Homo sapiens: one gene and its partners. The protein of the gene in region 2 purifies or fractionates together with the protein of the main gene of each other region. This does not show direct contact. Each region holds a gene or a part of one and is shown on either strand. Other genes may lie near its edges.

What was found.
Region 1: the proteins of PPP1R10 (region 2) and TOX4 purify together in Homo sapiens (affinity purification with mass spectrometry; 4 studies listed by BioGRID and IntAct, with this or other methods). This does not show direct contact.
Region 3: the proteins of PPP1R10 (region 2) and PPP1CC purify together in Homo sapiens (affinity purification with mass spectrometry; 10 studies listed by BioGRID and IntAct, with this or other methods). This does not show direct contact.

Annotation. Positions count from the first base shown.
Region 1 is NC_000014.9:21,475,630-21,479,229, reverse strand, and holds the start of TOX4 (TOX high mobility group box family member 4), read right to left. Parts: upstream 2,036-3,600; 5' UTR 1,952-2,035; coding exon 1,946-1,951; intron 1,735-1,945; coding exon 1,666-1,734; intron 1-1,665. Other genes in the region: RAB2B (ras-related protein Rab-2B), read left to right, coding at 2,358-2,403, 2,631-2,702. UniProt on the Homo sapiens protein: Transcription factor that modulates cell fate reprogramming from the somatic state to the pluripotent and neuronal fate. In liver, controls the expression of hormone-regulated gluconeogenic genes such as G6PC1 and PCK1.
Region 2 is NC_000006.12:30,603,644-30,607,466, forward strand, and holds part of PPP1R10 (serine/threonine-protein phosphatase 1 regulatory subunit 10), read right to left. Parts: intron 3,214-3,823; coding exon 3,136-3,213; intron 2,999-3,135; coding exon 2,825-2,998; intron 2,601-2,824; coding exon 2,495-2,600; intron 2,393-2,494; coding exon 2,280-2,392; intron 1,452-2,279; coding exon 1,351-1,451; intron 1,093-1,350; coding exon 945-1,092; intron 869-944; coding exon 710-868; intron 612-709; coding exon 365-611; intron 201-364; coding exon 137-200; intron 24-136; coding exon 1-23.
Region 3 is NC_000012.12:110,736,209-110,740,031, reverse strand, and holds part of PPP1CC (serine/threonine-protein phosphatase PP1-gamma catalytic subunit), read left to right. Parts: intron 1-3,823. UniProt on the Homo sapiens protein: Protein phosphatase that associates with over 200 regulatory proteins to form highly specific holoenzymes which dephosphorylate hundreds of biological targets.

The DNA of each region.
Region 1 (3,600 bases), on a different chromosome or scaffold from region 2:
AGCTACTGTGCTGGGCCCAGATTTAGGTTTTATATCATTTCAAAGTTTGCTGCATACTAGATTCACACTTATCCTGCTTATGAGAATAATAAATAAAAGCAACAAAAAAGTTAAACTGGCACTGGGCACATTGGCTCATGCCTGTAATCCTAGCACTTTAGGAGGCTGAGGCGGGCAGATCACTTGAGGCCAGGAGTTAAAGAGCCTGGGTAACAGGGTGAAACCCCGTCTCTACAAAAATTCAAAAAAAAAAAAAAAATTAGCTGGGTGTGGTGGCGCACACCTGTATTCCCAGCTACTTGGGAGGTTGAGGCAGGAGAATCACTTGAGCCCAGGAGGTGGAGGCTGCAGTGAGCCAAGATCGTGCTACTGCACTCCAGCCTGGGCTACAGGGAGACTGTCTCAAAAAAAAAAAGAAAGAAAAAAAAAGTTAAACTAGCAACTGGCCCTTGTCAACCCCATTTTCATCCATGAAAACGTTAGGATTATAGGATAAGCCCATGCAACAGCCACTGACAATTCTTGGTAAAAAAAACTGATGCAAATGGTCCACACCACTTTTGAAAATAAATATAAAAGTCCTCAAAAAATGGCAGATGGTTCAAGACTTCAGTTTCTCAAAGACAGAAATTTTTGTCTGTTCCACCATTCTCTTTTGCCTCTCCCAAACAAGTGATACATATCTATATTATGACAATATTTCAACCAAACTTTTTTAACGAACACTTCAGGGTTTCATCATAACCTTTACTTCTACTTTAAAACAGCATAAGAAACTATAATTACAGCTGTTTGACAGCTGGGGAAACTGTGACATACAAAGATGAAGTAATGTGCCCAACGTCTGAGTCACTGGCAAATTGAAACACATGTCCTACTCAACTCTTTTATATTCTCTAGCAGCTATTTCCTTTCCTCCTGACATTAGCAAAACAAGCTGACACCATGTAGGTAAAGGTAACCACAAATTTTTTATCAAAGTAGGAAATTTAGGCCGGGCGCAATGGCTCAGGCCTGTAATCCCAGCACTCCGGGAGGCCGAGGTGGGTGGATCACCTGAGGTCAGGAGTTCGAAACCAGCCTGGCCAATATGGTGAAACTGCCATCTCTACTAAATATACAAAAATTAGCCGAGCGTGGTGGCGCACGCCTGTAATCCCAGCTACTCGGGAGGCTGAGGCAGGAGAATCGCTTGAACCCAGGAGACAGAGGTTGCAGTGAGCCGAGATCGCACCACTGCACTTCAACCTGGGCGATAAAGCGAGACTCTGTCTCAAAACAAAAGAAAACCAATAAGCTCCTCCCCTCAACCCCAATTTCTTCAGCTGCTGAAACATTTTCTTTCCACTGCGATCCCCTAAGATTACTGTAGCTATTTCTCCCCAGAGAAAGGAGACAATTCCACTCTGTCTTCTAATCCAGAATCCCTTTTCTCTTTAAACAGGTTATCTCTTTCCAATACCTTGCTTTCTGATGACAGCAACTTCCCAAGACTTCCCCAGATAGTCCCCACAGGCTCTAGAAGCAACCGCCACTTTTCTCTAAACACCAATTGCGGCCCTTGGTTCCCAGCCCCCGTCCCCGGAGTCCGTGCTCTCCTCCCCACTACCCTACCCCACCGCTGCCTCAGGCCCTACCCCCGCGGCGTCGGCAGCTCTGGCTCACCTCGGCCCCTGACAGGAAGGGGTGCGAAGGCCCTGTGATCGTCAGGTAATTGTCATTTCCTCCGGGAAACTGGAAACCAAAAGAAAGTCGCGGGGATAAGTTAGGGGGAGCAGGGAGTCAGCTTGGAGCGATGGCTTTTGACCCTGACATTCTGACAACACTCCCCAAACCCCGCTCTCTCTCCTCTCCCGTCAGTCGCCTCTCCGCCCGGCTTCCCGTCCCTGCTTCAACCCGGTCGGCCGCGTTCTCTCGCCAGCCTTCTTAGCTATCAGGTTCCTACCTCCATCTTCACACAACCGCTCCCACCGTCTCAGACCCTCATCGCTCCCACCGCCCCCACTGGACTCGGAACTGCCGTCACTTCCGCAAGGACGTGTGTTCTCTCTGCTGATTGGAAGGAGCGCCGTGGGGCTGCAGAGAGTCAGGCGCTGGGCTATCGCCCCCTGGAGTTTGGAGGGATAAGGGCATGTAGAAGTGCTAGAAGCGTCCCTGGAGGTGGCGTAGGGTACTCCCGACCTAAGGATGATTCCGGGGAGTGCAATAGAGACGTGATCTGGGCTAGAGGAGCCGGAGGGGCGGGGGAGCGGGGGGAAGGGGGAGAAGAAGAAGATCGGTAGATTGAGTGGCTAGAGAGGTCGGAGGTAAGTGGCTATAGAAGTCGGGCGGACCCGGAACCCAGAGGACGCGACACCATGACTTATGCTTATCTCTTCAAGTATATCATCATCGGAGACACAGGTAACCCTCAGGTGGTTCGCCTTCAAGGCTCGGGCGGGCATTCGAAGCTCCCAAATTGGGTGGCGGGGGCGGGGCTCACTTTGTGGGCTGGGCGATTCGAGACGGGCGGGGCGGTTCGGGGCGGCCGGGGGCGGGGCTCGGGAGCCCCCCTTCTCTGGTCCGGGAAGTCCATACTCTGGAAGGTGTTCCAGGGCTGCGTGATTCCGGGAGTGTGCTTTCTCTTTCAGGTGTGGGGAAGTCATGTCTCCTCCTGCAGTTTACAGATAAGCGGTTCCAGCCTGTCCACGACCTCACAATAGGTAAGTGCATCTACTTGTTCCAGAACAGATGATAAAACCTGACTAGCTAAATTGCTAAAGTGGAAAGTTAGCAGCCTTCAGTGTTCGAAGTAAAAAGTTACCCCTCACTACTTTAAACTAGTCCAAACTTATGTTAATGAAGTGACCAATGAAACGTTGATATGTGGGGAGTAGTGTAAGGGAGAGTATATAATTGAAAGGTAACTTTTTAGAGTGTGAGGTATAGACTCGTCATATAATTTTTTTTCAAATACAATTTGTATGTTTATGGAAAATCCCACGAAAGCATAACTGCTTATTTATGAACTCATCTGTGCTTTGAGGTAAATTAATACCAGCCTTACTTTTAAAAAGTAAACACCAATACATGGACATTTTTTATATTGGTGAAGAAGCAAATTGAGGAGTCATCCCTGCCTTAGAATTAATAGGCAAATAAAACTAAAAACTTTCCTTTTAAATGAAAGAGTGTGTTAACAGTTCCTCAAACGCACTGGCGATCCTGGAAAATATTAACCTTTCCCACACGTTTGTGATAAGGCATGGCCTGAAGAGGCTTTTAACTACCCCCTCTTCGTTATCTCCGTAACCCCAGTCCAAATAAACAACATATATGAAACTAGCTTTCTTGCCATGCAAATGCAGTTTCTAAATAAACCCCTACATCCCCATTCTTACCATATTGCTACTTCCAAGTCCCACCTGTATGGAAACCTGAAGCTACCACTGTTCCTAACGGATTTATTTAGAGTCAAATAATTGATGGGGTTAGAAAAGGATTTGGCAGTATCAACTAAAAGGTATTTTAAAGGGAATATTGAGCGAATTCTCACTTTGCGATAGGGGCTAATGATACAATGCTTAACAAGGCAACAATGCTTAATTGTGCCTCTGGCAA
Region 2 (3,823 bases):
GGAGTCTCATCCATGGAACACTCCTGAAAGAAGAACAAAAAAAATCAGGATTGACAGAACAGAGACATTCTCATATGAAAGATGCACCGAATTCAATGACCATCACAACTTCCATCATCACAGAACATTGACTTACCTCATCTAGGGGGATGAGTTTAGGGGGTATGGGCTCGTAGGGCTCAGGATCAGGCTCATGAGGACTATCAGGAACAACACAGGTGAGAGAAAAAAGAATGATAGTCAAGTTATTAATTCAGACCCTGAAAGTAATTTCTAACCTCCACCCCGTAATTACCCCAGCTCATGTTCCCTCAGGAGTGTCCAAGCACTCAACATCCCAGGGCACGAACCCCACTCTGCTCACCTCTCCTTGTTCAGGAAGAGCTCCTGAAGGATTCCCTTCTCCCGCTCAGCCTGGATATATCGCTCCTGACTATTGCTTCCAGGGGTGACAAGAGGTGAGGGCAGAACCAGGGGCCGGGGGCACACCCAGGGCACCTTCTCCTCCATGTTATCATGGCTCAGACGCCGCGCTGTCTCAAATGCATGTCGGTCTGACAGTATCTCTCGCTTAGCCGCCTCACCAAAGTCCTTGATCTTATTCACATTTACTGTCGGCAGGGGAAGAAAAGCAAGAGGGAAAGTAAGCACAACCAAGTCCTTTCAAAATCCCTTAAACACACCTATTACGTAGGAAATGACCTCTTACCTCGTTCAGTTTCATCCAATTCAAAATAGAAATATTCTCTCAGTTTGCCTTCCTCAGGCCATGTCACACTTTTCCTCTTCCTGCCTTTCCGGGTCAGTTGGTTAGGATCTCCAGGACTCTCCACTGGCTTGGCATCCAGAGCTCCTGGCTCCAAAGAGGCTGGAAGCAGAAGAGGTTTCAGACCCAGATCCCTCCTTTCAGAAAACCCCCCAAACTGAACCAGTTTCTAGATTACCTGTATCCATGAGCTCCGGGACTTCAACAGGGGGAACCGGGGTGCCTGGACGGTCTGCGTCCATTGCCTCAGAAGGTGGTGCTGGTTCTGGGGAAGAAGGTTTGGCTGTGCTTGGTTCTGTGCTCGTTTTCCCTTCAAAGGGGCTTGGCTATTGTGAAAGAAAAGGAAGTTAATGAACTGACTGGAAAGCCAAGGGCAAGGCAATTAGTCCAGGGTCCCAGGCACAGTCCCCCAACAGTTCCTATATAAAGGAAGACTCTGTCTCCACAATGTCTCACCTGCACCAGTCTATATCCAAGGCAAAACGCCTCTTGTTGTCCTCCCCGACAACTCCTAGCTGCTGTGCCCTTTCTTCTACTTTACCTTTTATACTCTGTCACTGAAACCTACTTCTGGGAGCCCATACCTTGGCAGCCGTAGGTGACAGTACTTTTTTTTTCTTCTTAATTTTGATGCCTGGAACAGGGGCTGAATTAAGAGCATCCAGAAAGCCCAGGCCCTCCATAGCTACAAAAAGAAAGAGCACCAAATGGCATCATCAGACCTCCTTCATAATCCTACACCTGCAAACACAGTCCAGGCATAAAATGAGCCAGTGAAGACCCTGCCTCAACTTAGGACACGATAAGCTCAAGAGGACCAGGAAGCACATGCAGGAGGATTCACACAGGATATTCTTGTTGTTATTCTAGGTTTCTCATGGCAGGCAAGCCATAGCTTTGGATGTGAATTATAGCTCAGGTAGCTGACGAAGTGAGCCCTTGTGAACATGACAGATCACCTTACCAGGTGCCCCTGACCAGTCACAGAATGGCACACGTCCCTATCTTATCTCTAAAATTACTCCTAAGTGACCCCTGAAACGGGAGTTCCAGAGGTACAAAAAGTAAGGGATACCAAGAAATCAAAGGAAAATGGAGGGAAATAATAAAAGAGAAGGGAAAAAACTTCTCGTTCCCAGGGACATTCATTCCCATAAGAGTTTGCTCCTGGCCAGGTGCGGTGGCTCATGCCTGTAATCCCAGCACTTTGGGAAGCTGAGGTGGGTGGATCACGAGGTCAGGAAATCAAGACCATCCTGGCTAACATGGTGAAACCCCATCTCTACTAAAAATACAAAAAATTAGCCGGGCGTGGTGGCGGGCACCAGTAGTCCCAGCTACTCGGGAGGCTGAGGCAGGAGAATGGCGTGAACCCGGGAGGCGGAGCTTGCAGTGAGCCAAGACCGTGCCACTGCACTCCAGCCTGGGTGACAGAGTGAGACTCTGTCTCCAAAAAAAAAAAAAAAAAAGTTTGCTCCTAATTCAAAGTACATCTTCCCCACTTTAGACTCACGCTGTGGCGGGATGATCTTCACTTTGATCTCTTTGGTGGCATTAGGTGTTGTGTTGAGTGGCTTGTATTTCTTCTCTGCAGGGGGAGTGGCATCTCCTGGAGCAGCTACGTTGCTGTCAGAAGAGGAACTGTCATCAACATCTCCGACTCACCCCCTCCTGCTCCCTTGTGTCCACAGATCCACCCCATTCAGAGCCTGAGAATATGGTCCATACCTCTGACGTTTGAGGGGGATGGGTTTAAGGTTGTACTTGTCAGAAACCACCACTGTGCTGGCATTCTTCTTCACAGGCACCAAGGATGGTGTCTCCAGCTCTAGTCCTGGGGAAAGAAGCACGGTGTGGGCAGCTGAACTCAAACCCCAGACCCCCGAATTTTCCTCCCGTTCTCACCCGCAAATGTTCTTCTAGCCTTGTAACCAAAGCTTCCTCTGCTAGTCTTCCCTCTTCCTTACGATTAACATACCACACATCAAATGATTCCCCCATAAGGCTCTGGGTGTGCACATGCCCATGAACCCTCCAGAGGCCAGCCGCCAGTCTTACCAGTGGAACGGAACTTGGCATGACTGGGTGCTGTGGTGCGAAGAGACTTGGGCTTCTCCCTCTTCTTCTCTGGGGCCTCCTCAGCCCGGGTCTCAGCCTTCACCTCTGTCAAAGGTCGCTCAGGAAGGGTAGTTCGACTTTTTCCTTCATCTTTACGTTTCTTCTTATCTTTCTCTGTTGTGAAAAAACAAAGCAGAAAAGGATTTTATTTAGATGAACACTGTCAGAGGTGAAGCAGACTGGGAGCACCTAAAGGCCACATCCCAATAGGAAAGAAATAAATACAAAGGATAAAGGACTAAGGAGCTTACCAGCAGGCTGGGTACTGCTCTGAGAGCGGATGACAGCCATCCAGTCGCTGACAAGGACTGAGGCCAATTTCCGGAGCTCTGCAGGTGACAGAAAGGGGAAATGCCTAAATAATGTAAAGTAACATTCTTCCAGGAACAGAAAATGGGAGGTTTGAGAAAATATTGTGAAAATTTATGTAACGGAGAAAGTAACCCAAAGTTTTAAGAAGAACATGAGATATGCTTAAAAACCAAACCCTTAAAAAATGGAACAATGAATTAGAGTTGTGTTCTACTTGGATAACTTTCAACTCTGATGTCATCACACCACTCTGGAGTAAAAAGACCTAATATTTCAGAATATGTGGTTAAAATCTACATTAGTAAAAGACTACACGTTGGGTGCAGTGTACACTGCTTGGGTGATGAGTGTACCAAAATCTCAGAAATCACCATTAAAGAACTTATACATGTAACCAAAATCCACCAGTTCCTCAAAAACTGACATTTTTTTAAAAAGCTACGTTAGTTGCTTTATGTATAACACACCTAATTGTTACAACAATCTGAAGACTTTTTATTTTCCTTTATAGATGTGAAAACAAGAATAAAATTTGTTTCTAAATATATGAAAAAATACTTTGTAACTCTTTCCTTTTGTACTTGGCAAATAACATCTCTGATCTATGGCACCTCTCTTCTGGCCAAC
Region 3 (3,823 bases), on a different chromosome or scaffold from region 2:
AACTCTGAGTATTTCTGTAAGCGAGGCATCACCTCTGCAACCCACCATGGATGCTTTTATCCAAGCTCTGCCTTGCTGATGATAAAACTTAAGGTTGTTAACTCCTTAGTATAACTGATGTTAGTTATTTAAATAACTACACAGTAAAACGGCATTTTGAGAGAAAATAAGCCAGCTGTTGATTTGGTCTGATGTATTGAAGACAAGTGAGATTTGGGGCAGTTTTACTTTGTAAATGACCTCCTTCAAGGAGCCATGGTGGCTAGCATTTTTTTTGCATAGCAGGTGGTTGTAACTTACTTCACATCTTGGTTTGCAAGAAGCATCTTTGCTTTGAAGAAGGCCATTGTCAAAGTGCAAGACCATGTCAGGCTCTGCAGAATTGCCTGACTTGTTTTAGTGATTTAAATATGATCTCTGCCCTGGCTCACAGAAAGTGCTTACAGATTTAATCCTCTGATACATAAGGGTTGTTCTGAAGGTAGGGAGTGTTCAGATATTCTGAAACTCTAAGATTGTTTAAATAACCCATATGTTCATCTTTTTGATGCAGTATAAAACGTTCATATTCTGGTGTTTAGCCATCCCTGGTCCTAAAGATAATAAAGGACAAACATAATGGTTTAAAAAGGGGAAGGTTTCTTAATATGCTAACCAAAAAAAAAAACAAAAGTAATCTTTCCTAATGAACACCTGTAATTATTTATTTTTTTATTTTATTTTGGAGACAGAGTCTCACTCTGTCACCCAGGCTGGAGTGCAGTGGTGGGATCCTGGCTCACTGCAACCTCTGCCTCCCGGGTTCAAGCGATTTTGGTGTCTCAGCCCCCTGAGTAGCTGGGATTAACAGGCATGCACCACCACGCTCGGCCAAGTTTTTGTATTTTTAGTAGAGATGAGGCCAGGCTGGTTTTGAACTCGTGACCTCAAGTGGTCTGCCCGCCTCAGACTCCCAAAGTGCTGGGATTACAGGCATGAGCCACCGTGCCCAGCCTGTAATTATTTGTTTACAGAGCAGGTAATTTTTACACTCACATCCAAGTTGTCAGTTTCTAATTCCCTCATTGATAAGAACTCTGATGTGAGCCCTTGCCCTTCCTTTCCCATCAGTATGTTGGTCATATGCCCACTTCCTCTCCTCCTAGGCAAGGTGGGAAAGCTCTGTTGGAGACAGATGATCTGCAGCTTGCAGGAGTCCTTTTTTAAACCACAGCATTGAAAAAGGATTACTCTCCTTGTGCCCGCAGTGCCCTCTTGCCTGTCAGTAGCAGGAGGCAGCAGTGAAATCTGACAGAATTGTGTGTGACGTTGTGCTTGCGGGGGATGTGACACACAGGAGCGCTCTGCATTCTGAGCCTAGGGTGTTCCTCCTCATAACTGGGCAAATGGACATGCAGTTGTAGCCCAGCAGTGGTCAGCTGTAGAAATTAGTGAGGTGATTTGATGTCTTTGAAAGCACAGTCCTATTACAACCTGTAACCTGTTGTGCAGAATCACAGTACCAGTCAGCCCACTTGACTAGGTGAGGATTCCTGATGGTGAAGCAGGGAAATTATTGATGTTATGTGGACTTCACCATTTAACTTAATTTACAATTGAGGCCATTAGTTGACCTGAGAGATTAAAATATGAAGGAGATAATATTCTGGGTGTCAGTCGCTTTGTAGATAAAGAACTGGAAAGTCATTCAAGACCAAGAAGGAAGGATTTCATTTCCATGGAGCTTATGGAATTCCAGGATAGAGTTTGATATTTTAAGATCATACCTCTGTATCCAAAGCATCAAGAACAGATGATGTGTTTGTGGATCTTGGTGATTTGTCTGAAATCTCCAGCTTCCCCACTTCACTGGGGTTTACTGTCATCCCTCTTCTAGAAGGTAGTGGTCATCACCGACAGTAAAGCTTACAGCAAATGAAAACTCAAAATGTAGTCTACTCAGTGGTATATTACCGAAATGTGTTCTTAGACTGTGAAAATTAAAGTTTTTAATGGATTGGCTTTACTCGAGGTGTAGAAAACTCAAGATGCTTTATTGAGAACAGTAGACAGTGTTTTGCAGCCACATCCTATCTGCCTTGAAAAAAATGGTGTCACTTTTATTTTTTTTACTAGAGACTGGGTCTCACTCTGTCCCCAGGCTGGAGACCTGAACTCCTGGGTTCAAGCGATTCTTCCTCCTCATCCTCTTGGCTAGCCGGATCTATAGGCACACACCACCACACCTGGCTAATTTTTTTTTCTTTTTCTTTTTTTCTTAAAGACAGGGGTGTTGCCTAGGCTGTTCTTTAACTCCTGGCCACAAGCAGTCCTCCCACCTCAGCCTCCCAAAGTGCTGGGATTACAAGCGTGAACCACAGCTCCCTGCCTTGGTGTCACTTCTCAATGCCTGAAGTGTAACCCCATCTGTTAGGAAAATCAGGATGGGAGAGGGCAGGGTGTGGAAACAATTGTGATAATCAGAACATGGAAGTCTTTCTGCTGGTGACTTTGCAGAGAAACTTAAAGGGTTCTTTTTTCTTTTCTTTTCTTTTTTTTTTTTTTTTTTTTTTTTGAGTCTTTCTTTGTCACCCAGGCTGGAGTGCAGTGGCAGGATCTCGGCCCACTGCTGCCTCCACCACCCAGGTTCAAGCGATTTCTCCTGCCTCAGCCTCAGTTGTTGAGTAGCTGGGACTACAGGCATGTACCACCATGCCCTGCTAATTTTTGTATTTTTGGTAGAGATGGGGTTTTACCATGTTGGCCAGGCTGGTCTCAAACTCCTGACCTCAGCTGATCCACCCACCTTGGCCTCCCAAAGTGCTGGGATTACAGGCGTTAGACACCGCATCCGGCCCAAAGGATTCTTGATAACATTTTTGTGGTTTATACTTTTTGCAGAAAAGAACTCAGTCGTTTATGGGAATGCTTAATGTTGGAAGTATTTACTGTTTTTTGTTTTGGTTTGAGTCTTATTTTCCTAAATCTGTCAAATATCATGAGGCTATTGATTTCACTGAAATGAATATGATGTGGCATATTGTTAAAATTATCACCTACTTTTTAACAGGATTATTTTAAAACAGCAAAATCTTCGTTGGCTTATTTTTATACCACTTGTGCCTTTCTTAGGTTCTGAAACTTCATTAGAATTCAGCTAGGGCTTTTTTAGTATATGCTATTTCTTTAATATGTTTTTATTTAAACAATTAAGGGGCCTTTATGTGGCAAGGAAAATACTTTTTTATTCCTTATAAATAATCTCAAACTTGTCTTAAATTTCCTTCCATAGTTTCCATCTTTGCTTTGCTTTTTGCCAGCAGCTAACTTTCAAAAGTTAGTATTGCTTATGAGAAAGAGCTGGTGTTGTAAATAATCACCAATGCTATTTTATTTATTTATATTTTTTGAGACAGGATCTCACTCTGTGGCCCAGGCTGGAGTGCAGTGGCATGATCTCGGCTCAATGCAGCATCTGTCTCCCGGGCTCAAGTGATCCTCCCATCTTAGCCTCCCGAGTAGCTGGGACTACAGGCGCACGCCACCATGTCCAGCTATATTTTGTATTTTTGGTAGAGACTCAATTTCACCATGTTGCCCAGGCTAGTCTCTAACTCCTGAGCTCAAGTGATCCTCCCACCTCGGCCTCCCAAAGTGCTGGGATTATAGGCCCAAGCCACCACATCTGGCTGCTATTCTTTTATAATTCAAATTTTTACCAGTTTGTTTTCAATAAAAATGTGTGGAAGTTTTTATTATTGCTCGTGTCAGTGATTTGCCAGAAAAATAGATCAGATACATTTCTACAGAGCAACCTTCGCTTTTAACAGTAATAATACGTTTT